4 linked regions of the Homo sapiens genome follow. The protein of the gene in region 2 interacts with the protein of the main gene of each other region in a biochemical or structural test. Each region holds a gene or a part of one and is shown on either strand. Other genes may lie near its edges.

Region 1 (3,334 bases), on a different chromosome or scaffold from region 2:
CTGTGTCCTGAGCAGCTCCGAGGGGCCGCCCAGCCCTCTAGGCTCCAGGAGATGCCGTCAGCACTGGCCTCTGAGGCCTGTTGTTTTGTGTTTTGGCGTCAGGGTTTATTTGCAAGACGACGACAGCTGTTGCTCACAGAAGGACCACATTTATATTATGTGGATCCTGTCAACAAAGTTCTGAAAGGTGAAATTCCTTGGTCACAAGAACTTCGACCAGAGGCCAAGAATTTTAAAACTTTCTTTGTCCACACGGTGAGTCTGTTCCCAGGGATTTCTGTGTGCAGGGTAATGGGAGGGCTTTGCACCACGTGGGAAGCAGCCACAGGCCTTGGCCAGAGGGAGCAGCGGGGATCGGGGCAGCTGCCTCGCCCTTTCCGACATCCCAGACGCCCACACTAGTGGCTCAGTCCTGAGGGGGCAGGGGACACCCTGTGCTTGTTTTTCAGTTTGGTGGTGACTGGGGGTGGTGGTCATCAGCCTGTGTAGTTGCTTACTGCTTGTGTGAATAACCGTCACACCCACGTGCTTTCAGGACTCGGAATGGCTGGTCGCAGGCAGCTCACCAGGTTGGGGTGGGGGTTTTGGTGGGACTCCCTGGAGAACACTAAACGGCTTCTGTCTTCGCAGCCTAACAGGACGTATTATCTGATGGACCCCAGCGGGAACGCACACAAGTGGTGCAGGAAGATCCAGGAGGTTTGGAGGCAGCGATACCAGAGCCACCCGGACGCCGCTGTGCAGTGACGTGGCCTGCGGCCGGGCTGCCCTTCGCTGCCAGGACACCTGCCCCAGCGCGGCTTGGCCGCCATCCGGGACGCTTCCAGACCACCTGCCAGCCATCACAAGGGGAACGCAGAGGCGGAAACCTTGCAGCATTTTTATTTAAAAGAAAAGAAGAAAAAAAACACCCAACCACACAAAGAACAAAACCAGTAACAAACACAAAGGAATTCAGGGTCGCTTTGCTTGCTCTCTGTGCTCCGTGGAGGCCTCCGTGTGCCCTCGTTGCCGTGGGGACCCAGCTCCATGCACGTCAACCCAGTCCCGCCCAGACTAGTGGACAGACCTGGTGTCACCAGTTTTTCCTAGCATCAGTCCGAACCATGCGCCCGCCCTGCCCCAACTGTGTGCTGGTCCTGCTGTGGCCGAGGGGACCGGGTGTGTTTGGCTCTTTATGCCCCTCCCGCTGTGGTCCTGGAACTCTTCACCAGGGAGGGAGCCCTGCGGGGGCCGCAGCTTTGTGGAGGGAGCCGCCGTGCTTCTGTCACCTGCTCCCTTTCTTGCGTCTCCCTGTGATGGGCCCTTAGGCCTGGCTGGGCCCATTACATATCCCTGTGGTGGCTCTGGTGGCAGCTTTCTGTGGCCCCTGCTGTGTTGGCAGGCAGGTTTGCGTGGTGAGGAGCGGGAGGGGTTGGAGTGGTGCGGGAGCAGGCTGCCGAGTGGAGGGTGCCATCGAGGGCTCCGGATCCCTTATCCTACTTAGCAGTGTTGGTCTCTGGGGCTGGAAGCCGAGCGCATGCTGGGAGCGGTACTGTCAGAAGTGAGCCCAGTTAGTACCCCGCTGGCTCACTGCACGAGAGAGTCCTGCCCCGAGCCCTAGGTGGGGCCAGGAGGTGCCTTGGAGAAGCCAGCCAGAGCAGAGAGGGCTGCTGACTTCCGTGTGGAGCAGAGAGGCCTGAGGGCCTCCTAAAAGGTTTAAATGTCCACGCCTCTCCAGTTGCTGAAGTAGGGTCTGAGAGAACCCTGGCATCAGCAGACCCAGGGTGCTTCTGTCTCCTGCAGACCACGCCAGGGAGTGCAGACACCACCGTCACACACGCCCCTTTTGTGTTTTGGTTCAAGTTTCTCAGAGCCCCTCAGAGCTTCTACATCTGTGCATCAGAAATCTCACAGCCTTCTCATGCTGCCGGCTCATCTGGGCCCATAGAGTGGGCTTTGCCAGTTGCTGTTGCACAGGAGGCGAGAACAGCACACTTCAACCCCAGCTTGCTGGTCGGCTTTCCTCTAGAGAGAGCCGGTTTTGGGGCCATTTCCCTTTGATGCTTTGGTGGCCTTGCCCCGCTCTGCAGCACAGACAGGCCAGATGCATTTGTCCTTTGCCTAGCTACTCCCCAGGTAGAGAGTGCTCCTGGTGGCCTGGCAGGTCTGGGCCCTTCTCTCCCTGCCCAGGTTGTCCCTGGAGGGCAGCCCTCACTCCCTTTGGGGGAGAGGCAGACATTGCTGCCCACAGACCTGCCTCTGACTCAACTGTGTCCACCCTCCCTGGTCCCTACCCCCAAGTCACAGGTGACTCAGCAGTGACCCTGTGTGCCAGGCCAGATCCAAACTGAGAGGGAAGGTGTCGTTTTTACACTGCTAATGACGAGAGTGGCTCTTTTTAGCTAGGCGAGTACAGACGGGGCCTGGGAGGGGGCAGAGATGTTCCCCAGGCCCTGCCTGTGGTTCCTGCCTGGGCCTTGGCTGCTGCTGTGTGAGAGCTGCATGTGAGCCTGTGACCGTGAGCTGGGGTGAGCTGGGCCGCACCTACCCTGGGGCCCCAGGGAGCAGGACGCTCCGGGGCCCAGCACGTTGCCCTGGGCCTGTGGCCGGAGTCGGAGTCCTCTCTCCTCCTCCTGGCTTTTGGAAAGGCTTGGCTGTGTTGGGGAGTCTCTCTTAGCCCTTTCAGGAATTTCTGTTCAGGCTTCCTCCTCCTCATCAGCTATTTTACCCATCTCAGAACGTCCTGTGTCTCCATGTAGGAGAGTGGCTCTCTCAGATCTCTCAGGGCGTCTGGTTATAGGGAAACAAGTGGAGCAGGGACGTGGCTTTAATTGGAGCACTCGGCTGGGCTGCTTGGGGAGACTCTTCCGTGCGTTCTTCCTCTGGATAGAACCACCACCTCCTGGGCGTCACTGACAAGCTCCATCTTAACCTCCAAAGCCACAGAACTAGGGGCTCAGAGCCAGAGCTGGCAGCCGCCAGCCAAAATGATGCCATTGCCTGAGCTGACAGCCAAGCCCTTCTGTGGGTCACCTTTCTCCTCACCCAGCCCCTTGCTCTTCCCTTTTGAAAGGCCCGTGTGTTTTCTTTCCTTACCCTGTGCTTGCTCATGTCTACTCCGGTTTTCTCTACCACATCCTTAGAGCCATCACCTGGCACGCAGGCGCCTTACATTCTACGGTAGAACGTGGGGTACTGTGTGTGCACATAGACACACTTACGTGGAATTACAGTTGTGGGTTTATCCAAGATGAGGAAGATTTCACCTGCTGTTTAATAGACTTGGGGCCATGTGCCTCCCCACACATGGGCAAGGACAGGTGGAATGTCGGGACCACACTGTGCGGCTTCT
Region 2 (3,500 bases):
ATGCTTGTAATCCCAGGCTGAGGCAGAAGAATCACTTGAACCTCAGAGGCAAAGGTTGCAGTGAACCAGGATCACACCACTGCAATCCAGCCTGGGTGACAGAGCAAGACTCCCCCTCAAAAAAAAGAAAAAAAGAGGTTTCATGACATAATTTTGACAATTCATAATTATTGATAATTACAATATTATGGTCTTTGCCCTAACTCTTCAGTAAATGGAATACCTCTCTCTTCTGATACACAAGTATCTATATTCACCTTTTTTTGTCACTTTAAAGGTAACATTATATATACATTGTTCTCTACATAGCCTTTTAATTTATTTAGATATCTTGGAGAGTATTTACCGCCTGCACCTATAGCTGTAACTCATTCTTATAAATGACTGGCTAGTTTTTTGTTTGTTTGTTTTTTGAGATGGAATCTCAGTCTGTCGCCCAGGCTGGAGTGCAGTGGCACAATCAGAAATACTCTTCTGATGTAACTCTTCAGTAAATGGAATACCTCGTGGTATTTTATAAAATGCTGTGTTTATGTTTCCATAGCCATTTACAAGGAATTTTAGCATAATATGATCACACTTAGCTTCTCCAACTACCCTGTGTCAGAGGTACTCCTATTATTAGCATTTTTGGAATATGAAGAGCAAGGATCAGAAAGGTCAAGATACCTGCCCAAGATCACACAGCTAATGAGGTGGTAGAGCCAAGACTCCAACAAAGGAGTCTTGTTCCAAATTCTATGCTCTCTTCACCACCCTAGGGTCTTATTTATCTCTGAGTTCCTAAGGAACAAGTGCTACATCTAAAATAATTGGCATGGGGGAGGGGGAATGTGTTTGCAATACAAATGACAATCGAAGGACTAATTTCCAAAGAGCTTATACAAATTGATAACAAAGATTATATCTATATCTATCTATCTATAGATATAGATTTTTTTTTTTTAATGAACAGGGAGTTAACCAAAAAACAAAAAATGGGGCCTGGCACAGTGGCTCACGCCTGTAATCTCAGCACTTTGGGAGGCCGAGGCAGGTGGGTCACCTGAGATCAGGAGTTCAAGACCAGCCTGGCCAACATGGTTCCTAAGGAACAAGTCCCATCTCTACTAAAAATACAAAAAATTAGCTGGGCGTGGTGGCACACGCCTGTAATCCCAGCTACTCAGAAAGCTGAGGCAGGAGAATCACTTGAACCTGGGAGGTGGAGGTTGCAGTGAGCCAAGATCACGCCATTGCACTCCAGCCTGAACAACAAGAGCAAAACTCTGTCTCAAAAAAAAAAAGAAAACAAAAAAAGAAGAAGAAGCAGAGGCAAATGACCAAAAAACTCAACTAACTCAAAATTAAAGATATAAATAAAAATAACAAGATACGGCCAGGCGCGGTGGCTCACACCTGTAATCCCAGCACTTTGGGAGGCCGAGGCGGGCGGATCACAAGGTCAGGAGATCGAGACCATCCTGGCTAACACGGTGAAACCTCGTCTCTACTAAAAATACAAAAAATTAGCTGGGCTTGGTGGCGGGCGCCTGTAGTCCCAGCTACTCGGGAGGCTGAGGCAGGAGAATGGCATGAACCTGGGAGGCGGAGCTTGCAGTGAGCCCAGCGCCACTGCACTCCAGCCTGGGCAACAGAGCAAGACTCCGTCTCAAAAAAAAAAAAAAAAAAAAAAAAAACAAGATACAATTTTTCACCTTTCAGACTAGCAAACATGTAAAAATTTTCATTTCAGATGAGACGGTATGGAGAAACAGACACTCTCCAAACCTATGGATACAGGTACAAACTGAGGGGACACTTTTGGAGGACAACCTGACAACAGCAATCACACTTTTAAATGCATGCATCTTCCAATCCAGTAATCCTGAAACTAGAAATTTACTCTACAGATAAACTTGTGAAGGTTACAAGAAATATCCACCAGAAACATTACAAAGTATGATTTGTGACGGGACAGGGAGGTGTACTAAAACAACTAAAGTGTCCATTGATAGGAGAATGGTCAAATAAATTGTAGTAAATCCACACATCAAAACACTAGTCATGGTCAGGCATGGTGGCTCACACCTGTAATCCCAGCACTGTGGGAGGCCGAGGTGGGTGGATCACCTGAGGTCAGGAGGCAGAGGCTGCAGTGAGCCGAGATCCAAGATCATGCCACTGCACTCCACGCTGGGGTACAAACTGAGACCGTGTCTCAAAAAAAAAACAATAAAATTAAAAATTTTAAAAAAACCTTCTGAAATTGGATACAATATTGTAAATATGTGCATTCCCTTTTGGGGAAGGATTCTTCCCTTTTACATACTCTCTATACTCTCTAGGGGTCTTGTATCTCTTCTTTTCCCCCCCAAGAAAGATTCAGAACCACTGTGTTATAGGCTCCATGTTGATATGAAGTTTTAATACTCACTCACTCATTCACTCAGAAACCATGAGATAACACTGGGCTACGCCCTGGCACAGGCTCCCAGAAAAATATCACCCAACTCCTGCCCTGGAGACGCAAATCGTTTGTAACACAATAACGACATTGTCCGCCCAAGTTTCAGAAATGGCAACAGGGGACAACTTCCCTCTAACAGGAAGAAGGAAAAGTGGAACTGAAAATTATTTGCATGTTTAAAATTAGACCTTCTGTGGGAGCTGACACTGCCTCGTTTTCAAAATGCCCCCCATCTGCTTACCACCACCCCTTATCCTACCATTTACATGCCAGGGAAATTCTGAGACAATAGGATGACTGCAGCTGTCACTAATAAGGAAGTAATAACAAACTTCCTACAGCCCCTGTCCTCCGAGGGGGCACCAGTAAAGCCACTGGAAAACCAGCCATACAAGGTGGTAAAAAAACTGCTCTGGGCTTCTCTGGTCTAAGATATTCACCACTTTCAGGGATCTCCACTTAGGGACTGGCTGTCCCTCATTATCACCATTCCTTCTCTGGCAAGTGGCAGCCCTTTCTCTGAAGCGGGCAGCAGGGATGTCATTCACAGTCACATCCTACATCACAACTGTGACTGGTTGGTTGGTGCTATCTGAGTCTTGCCCAGTGGCCAGTAAGAGCCATGAAGACAGGCTCCTGTTCCCCACCACGGCCTCTGCTCAGTGCCTGTCCCCCAGACTTAAGAAACTGATCATCTTTACAATTTGGTCATAACCACATCATACTCACATAATTATTTACCCAATGTTTTTCTTTAGACCAACTTTTTATGATATTTAAACAAATTTATTTATCATGATACCACTTTTCACCTCATTCGACCTATAAAATCATGGACTTTTGGGGGTCTTTCTTTACTAAGACCCCCTAAAATAAATTATTTTTTATTTTTTTTCTTTTTGAGACAGGGTCTCACTCTGTTGCCTGGGTTGGAGTGCAGTGGCGCTATCAAGGTTCACCGCAGCTTCAACCTCCCAGGGCTCAAGCCATCCTCCCAACTCAGCCTCTCAAGTAGGTGGGACCACAGGTCCACACCACCATGCCCAGCTAA
Region 3 (3,500 bases), on a different chromosome or scaffold from region 2:
GTTACTAAGAGAGAACAAACAGACAACATTCATTTGGAACAATTATTTTCAAATTTGACTCTGGTTTCTTTTCTCTCTCCCACCCACAACTATAATCTATTACACTTTATATTACCCATTATAACACAAATCTGAAGGTTTCTTCAGTGAAATTACACAGTTAGGTCACACATCTTGTTTTCCATGATCTTATGAGTCTGAGTAGAACAAGTTTGGAATTGAGGCATGTAAGATGCAAAAGTCTTCTTACTAGAAGTTCCTAAGTTGATATTATTTTCTACAAAGTGTGAGCAACTGTCCTGGAGAACTCTGATGTCCGTGAATAAACAGGGGGCTGGGAATGGGCACGATACCCTTGACTTGTCAGTCAAAAGCACACCACTCTCTCTCTTTTTGATTGAGGTGACCCCTAAATAATAGATAGACTTTTTATCATTATTTTCTTCAGGGAAATTTCCCTCCAATTTCAAAAGTTCATCCAATCCTTCTGAGAATGTGAGGTGTGGTGAAATTATGTTGGGATGCTGATCTGATAATATAAAAAATGCCTGGGCCTCTATCTCCCATGAGCTATTAGAGAAAGAATCCTTCAACGGAGAATTTTTGCTAGAGAAGCACTTGGTGACTGAACTATTTATAAGCCCTTGTTCTTCACCAGTTTCACTTGGTTTAGAGTTGCTGATCAGCGTGGCGTATTTAACAAAGGGTTGTCTCTGGCTTTCGTCCTCATAGGTTACCTCAGTACCCTCAGCCTCAGAGAAGTTAACACTGTTGAACTGGTCACTAATACAAACAGAACCCTTTTCAAGATCTGTTGTTGAAAGTAGAGAGACCACAGTTGTTGGCATCATCTCATCTTTATTTTTCCATGATGTATCAACACTGATATCTTCTGAAATTGTTTCAGGCTCCAAAAGAAGAGGACCACATGTCACTGATGCTGTATGCTTGATAAAAAGATGCTCAAACGTTTCTGGCTAAAAGAAAAGACACATTTTAAGGCTCAATTATGTTAAAAAATTTTGCTTCATTATGTCATACTGGCAGAAATGGAAGTGTGTTAAGTTAATAATAAAGAACATAAGTCAACCACAAATTAACTAGTTTTTGACTAAAATACATATATCAAAAAGCATAAGGAAGAGCCCGTTTAAGATGATAGCATTTGAAAGTGGGACAAGACAGACTTAGACTTGAGTTCTTCCAATTCTACAACCATGAACAAGTACACTAACCTCTCTGCCTTTCAATTTCATCATCTCTAAAAATGTGCTTCATGGTATTGTGGCTAGAAATAAATTAGTGTCTGCAAGTGCTTAGCTCTCAGGAAAGATTGGTTACTGTCATTGGAAAATGCTATCTTCTGAAGATATTTCCTTCCTAATATTTTGTAGCAAATTACATTCCCATAAACTAAAAATGTTAGCCCAAAATAGAAAAAAGTGGATTGAAATGAAATGACCAAAATAACTTGTCTAAAAACAGTTAAAATAACTATGTTGTGAAATAAGATATGGTATGAAAGTAAAATAATTGTGTTGACTATTAAAAACTTATCTGCTGTATACTGAGAATCTGCTTGAGACTATCTGAAAATAAGAGCTAATAATATCATATGTAGAGAACAATGATGATGAAAGAGATGATCACAAACTGGTAAATTACTATTCCTTATAAATAACTTCACGTAAAAATATTTACTATGGACATGTGAAATGAAGACAAATACACAAGACAAATGTACATCATATTTTTTATAGAAGTGATTATATCACAAAGAAAAATCCTGCCAAACAACTACAAATCAAGAATCTGTGGGCAAAAAGCTCAATTCATACAATGTAAACACATTGAAAAAACAAATGCAAAATAAAAAAAGCTGTTGATACATCACCTTGAAAAATTAACACAACTAAATTAAGGGCTATAGAAAATGTGTTCAGCTTATATATCATACACGTCATTTAACTTGAATTTTACAATTTTTAAACTAATAGAATTCAGATTTATTACTTGAAATAATGGTATACCCAGCTGTTCTTCATAATGGCAAGCATATTCCATATACAATACAATTTATTTAGCATAGTTTTATACTCTTAAGTAAAATATGTTAGTGATTAAAAGCATAAAGGAATAAATATGCCAAGCGCAAAATATAATAATGGAATAGACTTATGTAGGTATTAAAATACTGCATAATGACAAATACTGAATTAATACAACTTTCCTATTATTCATAATCATAATATATGAAGAGAAAACTGTTCCTATGCCTGTTTTTTTTTTCTGAAAGAAATCTATGGTTTTATACATTTCTTCAAATATTTGCTTGCTCATTTTCTTTTTTCTTAAGGCTTCTACTATATATGCACTGAACTGTCTTAAAATTTAAATGAACCTACATATTAAGATTGTCAAAAGAATTAGATGCTATCAATATGAAAACAAGGAATACATACAAAAAAACCATAACCATAGTCAAGATTACATATGTCCTTCAAATGATGTGTTTGATATATTTCATGCTAAAATGTCATACTCAGTAACTGTTGAAAGCAAATACTGTAAATGCCTTCCAATGCATTCAGATAGAATATTTCACTCATAATTGATAAGAAATCTCATACTCATATACTATTGAAATATGTTTTGTCAGTGAGTTATAAAACTTTATTAAAAGTATATCCATTTAAAAAATTTCACTATATGCATCTTTTTTTAAGATTTTAGAATAATCTGGGCACATATTAAATATGTGTTGAGTGGGCAGTAATTAAAGAATGTCCTTTCATAATTTCATACTTAGATTTTACATTTCAATGACACCTATTAGAAGTCAAGAAGGGAAGAAAGACACATTCTTCCCGTTTTTGTAGAGTTCTTTTCTACTTTCAAATAAAACTACGAGTTAAATCTAAATATAAGGGATCCATATATACATATATACGCATATATAATAAATTTGAATACTGAGTTCATTAAACATAGTCGTTGGTTTGGTTTGAATGTGAGCAACGCAGCATAATTCGTGTGCTGAATTCATAAAACTAGCAAGCAGTCTGTCTGAAAGTAGAAAAGTTCTGTCCTCACCATGAACTATTCATAAAAGCTCCAAAGAGTCTCCCTTTTTTGCATCACTGCCCATTTCCCTGCCTGCCAGAGGTCTTGGATGGTTCAGTGGAAGTAAATTAGATTTAGGTCATAATTAAACAAGAAAGCTGGATTAGAAGTCGATGTTCCCTTCTGGTCCCGTCAATCTGACCTGGGTATGTAGGGTCATCCTGATATGAACTGTAACTCCCACTGTCCTGTGGGCAGCACAAACACAACTTCGGGCTTCCTTTTAACTGAAACGGAAGTTATCACTTAAGCCATTTTCAAGGATATTGAAAACTGAAATTCCCAGATTGAACAAAGTTAGATACAAAAATGCCAGGAGATATTCAAAAGAACACCCGAATAGGCTGATTTTTAGGCTGACGTGTCTATAAAGGAAT
Region 4 (3,500 bases), on a different chromosome or scaffold from region 2:
TCTCGAGCAAAAGCTGGGTCAGTCTCTAGGACCCGGCTTTTCCGCAGAAAATCTAGCAGGTTCCCGTAGGGGGCATATTCAATAGCGATATACAAGTAACCTGAGAGGCAAAGAGACAGACAGTGGTGATTTAGACACAGGCAACCTAGGGTGGGAGCAGGCACCCGATGGTAACAGACAGGGATGAAGGAGGATCAAGGGTGGTGCACAGGTCACCAGCAGCCCCTGGCAAGCTACTCATGTGGTGGAGGTGATGGCTGAGGATGGGGGTTTGGAAGAAGGGGTAGGTGATGAGCTGGGGGCTCACCTCGGTTCTTACAGGCCCCCAGGAGGTTGATGATGTTGGGGTGATGCCCCAATTTGCACAGAACTTCCAGTTCTCCCGCAAAGTCACGATGGTCATTTTCAGAGGCATACTCTGTGTAAAGAATCCAATATTATTTTGCCAGAAATAACTCTGGAGAAAGGGCTGGCAAGGGCTGGGGTCAATTGCTGGAGGAAGCCAGGTGGGGCCTGGGATTTGTGGGACAAAGGAGAGCATCAGGGCTGGGCCAGGGGTCGCCCCAGTGGACCTTTCAGCATTTTGATGGCTGCGTTCATCTTCAGCCCGTCCTTCTTGATCATGGCCCGGATGACCTGGCCGAAGTTCCCCTCCCCGATGAGGTCCTCAAAGGTGATGTCCTCCCACTCTAGCACTGGGTAGCTCAGGGGCTCGGGCTGCAGTTTTGGCCGCCGGGTAAGTGTCAAGGTCCCTGAGCTGAACTGCAGGATGGTCTCCTCGCCCTTCACAGGATGAGACAAGAGGGCAGACGGTCCACGCAAGAGTCAAAGGGGGCGGAAGGAGGCACAGACAGGCACACGAGGAGGTTTCAGTGTCAGACAAGTGGGCAGAGACCCAGATGGAGGGCACCCTGGTGGTCAGCCAGGGACAGACAGGCAGACAGAGGACATAACTGAGACAGAATCATAGGTAACAGAGCCACAGGTAGGCTGCTGGGTGGACAGATGTCCAAGGAGAGAAATGCAGAGGCTGCAGCCAGGGGATCTAGTGTACGGGACTCTGGAAGGCAGAACCAGGGCTTGTGGGTAAAGTTGCTAGAAGCCACAATGTGAGTCAATGGAAGGAGGATATTTCTAACATTTAAAACAGAAAAGGATCGGAATGAGCTTCCTATGACTGTGCTAATCCTACAACCAGGCTTTTTGTTGTTGTTGTTGTTGGGGGTCACCAGGGAAGCTCTGGAGAAGATTCCAGCCTTAGGGAGTAGGCCAGGGGACATTTATTGAGCACCTACTACATGCTCAGCCCTGAGCTGCTGGGAGCCAGTGGAGGGGTTTTCTCCACAGTAGCAGAAGCAGAGATTACCCTGTCCACACACTTGGCTTTTCTCCATAGCTCTAAAATCAGGCCAGGACCTGAAAATAGCAAGACTATAACAAAGAGGAATGTCCAATTTCCTAACTCAGTAGGAGGAGGCCATCTGGGTGGGGCTGATGGTGGGAAAAGGAAATAAGTGAACAGGACCAAAGAAACTGCCAATATGAGAACTGGAAGCAGGGTTAAGACAGACCTTCTGGTGGGGCTTCCTAAGTGCACTGAAGTCCAGCTTGATGGGCAAGGGCTGAGGACCTGGGGCCCAGGGATTTGCAAGAAGCACTGGTGCTGACGGCACATAGCAAATGCACGTGATGTTCTTGGGCAGCACCATATGTAGGTGCATCATGTATAGGTCCATACACACATGCAGGCCTGAAGGTGCACAGGCATAGGGACACGTGCATCTGGGACACACGCATTTAAACATGTGGCACTCACAGGGGATGCACGTGTGCACTCATACATGGAGCACACACATTTGTGCACACACGTTTCCTATCCATATGCAGGCACATGTACCAGGGATATATCTTTTTGTTTGTTTTGAGACAAGGTCTCGCTCTGTTGCCCAGGCGGAAGGGCAATGGCACGATCTCAGCTCATTGTTACCTCGAGCTTTTGGGCACAGGCAATCCTCCCACCTCAGCCTCCCGAGTAGTTGGGACCACAGGTGCACACCTCCACGCCCATCTAATTTTCATATTTTCTTTTATTGTAGAGATGGGGTTTTGCCATGTTGCCCAGGCTAGGGGGATATATCTTGATATAGAGTATGACACCATGTATGTTAAGGACTGCTTTCCCACCTCCTGCCCTCGACATCTGTACCCATTACCCTCCCCCACCACAGCAGTGAGGGCTTTCTGTGTGCACTGACCTCAGAGGAAGAGCCAACACAGCTTGGAACAAAGAAGCCAATTGAATCTCTGAATGGATTTTTTTTTTTGAGATGGAGTCTCACTCACTCTGTCATCCAGGCTGGAGTGCAGTGGCGTGATATTGGCTCACTGCAACCTCTGCCATCCGGGTTCAAGCAGTTCTCCTGCCTCAGCCTCCCTAGTAGCTGGGATTACAGGCTCCTGCCACTGTGCCTGGCTAATTTTTGTAGCTTTAGTAGAGATGGGGTTTCACCAACTGGGCAGGCTGGTCTTGAACTCCTGACCTCATGATCCACCCGCCTCAGCCTCCCAAAGTGCTGGGATTACAGGCATGAGCCACCACGCCCGGCCTCTGAATGGATTTTTCAAAGGCATAGCAGAGACACTAGGCTTTCTATCACAAGGATCAGCCCTTGAGAGAGAAGAGGGTTTTCTTTCTTTTTTTATTTTTTATTTGAAATGCCAAAGCTTAGCTCTAAATATCAAGAGTCCAGGCCTGGAAGGCCAAGGACAGAGTTCAGATCCTAAGTGACGACAATGAAGAAGCCCTCAGAGGAGACAGGACCTGCGGATGGGCGGCTAGAATGTGACAGGATAAAGTGACAGTGGGTGCCCTCCCACACCCCACCTCTAAGCAGGGGCCTGAGGGACAGAAGGGTGTGGGCTACAGGAGGACAGACAACTCGGGCAGGATTACAGGGAAGCCAGGAGGAGTGGAGGTTTGTGCTTCCTCTTTCAAGGAGCAGGCCAGCACAATTCTGGAGTGGTAGAAACAGTTGTCTAAGTGGGAAGGGGTTGTGGCAGCGGTCTGAGGGCCACAGAATATGCCTCCTTCCATAAGGTATAAGGAAGCCCCTACAGTTCTTTAGTTCTGTTTCTTTTTCTTTTTTAATTTTTTGAGACAGGGTCTTGCTCTATTGCCCAGGCTGGAGTGCAGTGGCAACATCTCGGCTCACTGCAACCTCCGCCTCCCGGGTTTAAGCAATTCTCCTGCCTCAGCCTCCCGAGTAGCTGGGATTACAGGCATGCACCACCACGCCTGGCTAATTTTTGTATTTTTAGTAGAGACAAGGTTTCACCATGTTGGCCAGGCTGGTCTCAAACTCCTGACCTCAGGCGATCCACCCGCCTCAGCCTCCCAAAATGCTAGGATTACAGGTGCAAGTCACTGTGCCCAGCCCCTTTCTTAAGTCTCCAAAAGGAGGCCCTGGGATTTGCAAGAATGAAGGTTAGGATGAGGAGCT

The links. Proteins that work in one complex are often made in the same cells at the same time.
Region 1: of the proteins of PTPRJ (region 2) and PDPK1, one has a biochemical effect on the other in vitro, tested with the Homo sapiens proteins (one large-scale study listed by IntAct).
Region 3: of the proteins of PTPRJ (region 2) and LEPR, one has a biochemical effect on the other in vitro, tested with the Homo sapiens proteins (one large-scale study listed by IntAct).
Region 4: of the proteins of PTPRJ (region 2) and TIE1, one has a biochemical effect on the other in vitro, tested with the Homo sapiens proteins (one large-scale study listed by IntAct).

What each region holds. Positions count from the first base shown.
Region 1 is NC_000016.10:2,597,021-2,600,354, forward strand, and holds part of PDPK1 (3-phosphoinositide-dependent protein kinase 1), read left to right. Parts: intron 1-102; coding exon 103-255; intron 256-630; coding exon 631-747; 3' UTR 748-3,334. UniProt on the Homo sapiens protein: Serine/threonine kinase which acts as a master kinase, phosphorylating and activating a subgroup of the AGC family of protein kinases.
Region 2 is NC_000011.10:47,987,059-47,990,558, reverse strand, and holds part of PTPRJ (receptor-type tyrosine-protein phosphatase eta isoform 1 precursor), read right to left. Parts: intron 1-3,500. UniProt on the Homo sapiens protein: Tyrosine phosphatase which dephosphorylates or contributes to the dephosphorylation of CTNND1, FLT3, PDGFRB, MET, KDR, LYN, SRC, MAPK1, MAPK3, EGFR, TJP1, OCLN, PIK3R1 and PIK3R2. Plays a role in cell adhesion, migration, proliferation and differentiation.
Region 3 is NC_000001.11:65,633,668-65,637,167, reverse strand, and holds part of LEPR (leptin receptor isoform 1 precursor), read right to left. Parts: exon of another isoform or gene 1,740-3,500; intron 978-1,739; coding exon 153-977; 3' UTR 1-152. UniProt on the Homo sapiens protein: Receptor for hormone LEP/leptin. On ligand binding, mediates LEP central and peripheral effects through the activation of different signaling pathways such as JAK2/STAT3 and MAPK cascade/FOS.
Region 4 is NC_000001.11:43,314,482-43,317,981, reverse strand, and holds part of TIE1 (tyrosine-protein kinase receptor Tie-1 isoform 1 precursor), read right to left. Parts: exon of another isoform or gene 2,683-3,500; intron 784-2,682; coding exon 573-783; intron 419-572; coding exon 308-418; intron 101-307; coding exon 1-100. UniProt on the Homo sapiens protein: Transmembrane tyrosine-protein kinase that may modulate TEK/TIE2 activity and contribute to the regulation of angiogenesis.